Linked DNA regions of Homo sapiens: region 2 is linked to region 1. The links come from fine-mapping of genetic effects on gene expression. A gene starts in region 1. The other region holds a variant in brackets. All regions are shown on one strand. Distances are from middle to middle.

What was found. PIP is the estimated chance that this variant, and not a neighbour inherited with it, causes the effect.
Region 2: its variant is the best candidate, but not a certain one, in a credible set for the expression of FOXJ1 in whole blood (TOPMed, PIP 0.86).

The regions. Positions count from the first base shown.
Region 1 is chr17:76,139,909-76,142,922 of GRCh38, forward strand. FOXJ1 (forkhead box J1) reads right to left here and starts at 1,337. Exons shown (of 3, transcript NM_001454.4): 1 at 1,206-1,337; 2 at 1-656. The coding sequence starts at 487. RNF157 (ring finger protein 157) reads right to left here. Exons shown (of 19, transcript NM_052916.3): 19 at 2,566-3,014. It overlaps RNF157-AS1 (RNF157 antisense RNA 1), which reads left to right and starts at 648. Exons shown (of 8, transcript NR_040017.1): 1 at 648-772. RefSeq lists silencers at 175-364, 425-494, 1,173-1,332.
Region 2 is chr17:76,067,334-76,069,833 of GRCh38, forward strand. All of the region lies in intron 2 of SRP68 (signal recognition particle 68), which reads right to left. Among named protein-coding and RNA genes, the nearest start is that of SRP68, 3.9 kb to the right of the region's middle. The variant A/G (reference allele first, on the strand shown) is at 1,137.

The DNA.
Region 1 (3,014 bases):
GATCTGCGTGGCGGAAGTAGCAGAAGTTGTCCGTGATCCACTTGTAGATGGCCGACAGGGTGATCTTGGTGGCCTTGCTGGCCTGCATGGCCATGCAGATGAGCGTGGCATACGAGTAGGGAGGCTTCACGTGCGGATTGGTGGCGTAGTCCACGTCGTCGGGGGGTGGGGCCTGCAGCCCCGGGGGCGCGCTCCGCGACGTGCACGACGACGTGGGCTTGCCCGGCGTGTGTGGCTGCCCCAGGCAGGCGGGGTCGGCCGCCAGGGGGGACCCGGGCGCCGCTGAACCTGGCACCTGGTGGTAGCCGTGGGGGTCGGTGCCCCCCGGGGGCAGGGCGGGGGCCTTGGCGTTGAGAATGGAGAATTCCTGCAGCCACTGCAGGCTGGTCAGGCTGTCATCCAGGGCGTCGGGCTCCTCCAGGCCGCCCTCCGGCCCGGCCTCCTCCGCCGGCCCGGCTCCCGAGAGGCGCAGCCAGCTCTCCGCCATGTCTGCGGGGACTCTCCGAGGGGGCGGTCAGCATCCACGGGCTGAGCCGGGGGTGGCCCGCCGCGCTCTCTGGCCCGCTGAGTCCCGCAGCTCCCGTTACACGGCCTCCCGGACGCGCGCTTCCATCTCGCGACCCCGGGGGCGCCTCCTCCGAATAAGTATGTGGTGCCTGCGAGGACCACGGTGGGAGCTGAGCACTACCCCACCCCCGAGGGGACAGTGTGTGTACGGGGACGCCCTCTCTAACATCATCCCCGCAGCTGGGGAGGATCTTTTAGTGCCGAGGTATGGGAAACAGAAGCAAGGCCCTGGGGTCCCACCCCCATCAGATCTGCCTCCCTCTTCCTTTCCTCTTCGAGGTTTTATTAGCCAAATGAAGAGGGTAGGGGCATCCGAGGCTATCCTTTTCTCCCGAAGAGCAGGAAATCAGGACCCCCTTCCTCCTCGCAACAAATGGAAGTGGGGCGAGAAGTTTGGGAGGGCGGTACGACGGGGCGGGGGCGGTGGAGGTCCTCTGATCCTTGAAAAGGAATATTATGATAGGGGATCATTGGGAAGGAAGGGGACGGAACAGTAACGGGGGGCAGGAGGCGAGTTTCCCCCAGACTTCTCCGATGTCAGTCCCTGGGCCCACCACTTCCGTTAAGGACGAATGAGAGAGCGGGTTGGTACCGTTGCCCACCCTTCCCCCTGGCCTGCAGCCCTCCCCATCCCTTACCTGGCTCAGAGCGCAGCCCGGGCCAGAGGAAGGTTCTGGAAGAAGTTGCTCCCACCCCCTGCGGCTCTCTGCCCCCAGCTCGGGGGCCCTGCCAGCGCCTCTTGCCGCCCCCCCGCCCGACGGCGCTTCTCTGAGCTACCGCGGCCCCGGGACCGGCATTAAGTAGCCGCTCCAAAGGCTTCTCCTGCTGCCATGGCGACGCTCCGCCCCCATAAACAGCTTCCGCCTCTGCCATTGGCCAGCACGTCTCCAAGGAGACCGCGGGCACTTGCCACTCTCCCTGGCGGCAACTCTCTTCGAACTCCCTCCTTCTGCCGCCCTCTCCCGCGCCACCCAACCCCCTACCCGCCGCTAAGTCCCGGCTCGGCTCATTCCCGCCCGAGGGCCCCGCGCTGGGGTCGGAGAAGCGCGCGGCCTGCGGCACCGGGAACCGCTATGGATCCGTTCGTTCTGGGGAACCAAGACTCTCGCCCCCACCCCCTTCCTGTCCCGTACGCTTTGAGGCGTCGACTGCTCCTGGGACGGAGCCTGGGGTTGGGGGGCTAAGGCTGGGAGCGGGCTCAGGCTCGGGAACCGTATCCTTGAGGTTTTCTTTCCTCTCCGCTACGAGTGGCACTTTCTCATGTTTCTGCAGCCTTTCCCTCTCCCCCGACTCTTAGGGTCTTTCTCTGGTGTCCCAGGCAGGTCTGACTTTCCGATGCCACCTGCCGCTTACATCCACAGAGGCGGCAGACACACCAAGGGGGTAGGGTAATCCAGTGTGTCCCAGTAAGCAGCTCCTTCCCCACCCGTATCCTCGAGGTTCCAGGAAGCTGACATTCCAGAGGCTTCTGCAGAAGCGCACTCACTCCTCTGGAGACAGCTGATGAAGCAGAGCCCGTGGGTAAAACTCTGAAGTCATGGACTTGTCAAATTCTCCTAGCGGGGTCATTTGCCCAATTAATTTCACCAACCTTTAAGTCACAGGGATTAAGAGTAGAGGGACTCTGGGGACTGTGTCCCTTCCTCCTCCCTTCCCCTGGCCTCCCTCCTGTCACCAGCTTTCCTGCTCTTTAATTATTGAGGAGCTGCAGGGTTGGACGTTCTCCGGTTTAAGGCGGCTGCAGAGGCAGTGGTGGGGGCTGGGTTGATTACCCCGCCTCTGCCCAGGAGCTGGAGAGCCGGGGTCGGGGAGGCTGGTGCCCAGACCATGAAGAAGGCCCGGCTATGGCGCATCACTCCCCCGCCAACATGCCTTTCCCTAGCCCTTGCCTCTCCCACTCCTCCAACTCCAGATCCTCTTGAGTAAAAGTATTAAAGAGTGCTGGCGAAAGTCAGACAGAAACTTTCACAGATAAGCTCACTTTGCAGTTAGCTCTCCTTCCCTTGTAAACAGTTTTATTCATTTTTAAGAATCATGCAGCAATCCATAAATATTGCATTCTTGATGTCCCCACTGTAGTGTGACCACAAGTGTACTCCAGGGAGAGGGGTACACAGATGGCACAAGCAGTATACACATGCACACACCAGGTGTGCAGACCAAAGCAAAGTGAGCGACCAGCGTGCTAAACTCCAGGTGGGCAGGACCCCAACTCCCAGGTGAGGTGGGCAGGACCCTAACTCCCAGGCCAGCCGGCTTAGAGTGTGGTGGTCTGTGCCCAGGAGATGCCTCAGCGGGGGTAGAAACTCTGGTGGGATGGAGCTGGGCAGAAGGAAAAAAGGGCTCTGTGAGGAAGCCGGGATCACACCACCTGAAGGCAATAGGGAGAGCACAGGCCTAGTGCAGCAGGAAGGAGCCCTGGGTCTCCATAGTTAGGCTGTGCCCTG
Region 2 (2,500 bases), 73 kb before region 1:
TAAGAAACCACAAACAAAACTCACTCAGCCAAGCTGAGAGTATTTTGAATAATAAATTCTGCAATAAGGCAAGGTCAAGGGTCAATGGTTTGGGATATTATACTTATGGTTACTAGAATTATCACATATCAGCTTCCAAACATTTTTTTCTTTTCTTTGAGACAGAGTCTGGCTCTGTCACCCAGGCTGGAGTGCAGTGGTGTGATCTTGGCTCACTGCAGCCAGGCTCAGTCAATCCTCCCACCTCAGCCTCCTGGGTAGATGTGACCAACAGAGGTGTACCACCACACATGGCTAATTTTTGTACTTTTTGTAGAGACAGGGTTTCACTATGTCACCCAGGCTGGTCTCGAAATCCTTGGACTCCAGCAATCCGCCCACCCCAGCCTTCCAAAGTGCTGGGATTACAGGCATGAGCCACCATACCCGGCCCTAAACATTTATTGAACAACTAAAACATGGAGGGCAATATGATTGGTATTATAGGAAACACAAAGAGATGGAGGACACAGTGCCCATGTTCAAGGAACCCACATTAAAATTGAGTAGAATCATGCAGAGAAAATGGCAACCAAGAAAACAAGGCAAATGTCAAGTTGAAAGGACATGGGTAATCATTCTCTTGTTAGCACCTTCAGCTGCAGTGGACTGATGGCGGGGCCTAGAAAGAATGAGGGGCTGGGTGCAGTGGCTCACACCTGTAATCCCAGCACTTTGGGAGGCCGAGGTGGGCGGATCACTTGATGTCAAGAGTTCGAGACCAGCCTGCCCAACATGCAGAAACCCCGTCTCTACTAAAAATACAAAATTAGCCAGTTGTGGTGGCACATGCCTGTAATCCCAGCCTACTCGGGAGGATGAGGCAGGACATTCGCTTAAACTCAGGAGGTGGGGGTTGCGTTGAGCCAAGATTGCGCCATTGCACTTCAGCCTGGGCAACAACAGTAAAACTCCGTCTCGAAAAAAAAAAAAATTAGCCAGGCATGGCGGGCGGGCGCCTATAATTCTAGCTACTCGGGAGGCTGAGGCAGAGAACTGCTTAAACCCGGGAGGTGGAGGTTGCAGTGAGCCGAGAACACGCCATTGCACTCCAGCCTAGGCAACAGAGCAAGACTGTGTCTGAAAAAAAAAAAAAA[A/G]AAGAAGAAGAAGAAGAATGAGGAGGATTCTAATAAATGTAAAGAAAGCAGGGAAAGGGGCATCCTGAGGAAGACTAAGATGACACCAAACATATGGAGAAAGAACTGCAGGCAGGTCTGAAGAAAAGTGAGGAAGCCAATTAGGTTATCGCCAAGAAGCACTACAAATGTCACCTCTATGCCAAGCCTCCTCCTCTATGCTCATGTAGCTCTTTATTCTTCCTTCTATTACAGTGTGTGACATTATAATTATGTTCTCACATAGTTGTCCACTAATATAAATCCCTTTAGTGCAGGGAGAATTATTTTTTTGAGACAGAGTCTCACTATGTTGCTGTTGCCCAGGCTGGGCTCGAACTCCGGGGCTTAAGCAATTCTCGGGCCTCATCCTCCCAAGTAACTGGCACTATGGCATGTGCCACCATTCCAGCTAGGATTTCATTTTTAAATTTTCCACAATGCCTTACCACAGTGTCTAATATGCAGATGTTCAATACATACATTTTGACTAAATTAGTTTAAAATATATATATAAATAAATAAATATATATATATATAAAATTGCACCAACCTTTAAGTCAAAGTAATACAGCACATAATTTACAATACAAAATGATATTTCAATACTACTTCAGGGGCCGGGCGTGGTGGTTCACGCCTGTAATCCTAGCACTTTGGGAGGCTGAGGCAGGCAGATCACTTGAGGTCAGGAGTTCGAGACCAGCCTGGGCAACATGGTGAAACCCCATCTCTACTAAAAATACAAAAATTAGCCAGGCATGGTGGTGCATGCCTGTAGTCCCAGGTACTCGGGAGGCTGAGGCAGGAGAACTGCTTGAACCCGGAAGGCGGAGGTTGCAGTACACCGAGATCGTGCCACTGCATTCCAGACTGGGTGACAGACAAAGACTCTGTCTCAAAAAAATAAGTAAATAAATAAAATGAAATAAAAATAAATAAATAGGCCAGGCACATTGGCTCACACCCGTAATCCCAGTACTTTGGGAGGCTGAGGCAGGTGGATCACCTGAGGTCAGGAGTTCAAGACCAGCCTGGCCAACATGGTGAAATCTTGTCTCTACTAAAAATTAGCCGGGCATGGTGGCATGTGCCTTCAGTCCCAGCCACTCAGGAGGCTGAGGCAGAAGAATCACTTGAACCCGGGAGGCGGAGGTTGCAGTGAGCCGAGATCGCGCCACTATACTCCAGCCTGGGCAACAGAGTGAGACTCCGTATCAAAAATAAATAAAATAAATACTACTTCAGCATCTCAATCAAAGCTACCAGGGTATAGATTATTTAAAAGAAAAAAAAAAAAAGAAATAGGCCAGACACGGTGGCTCACGCCTGTAATTCCAACACTT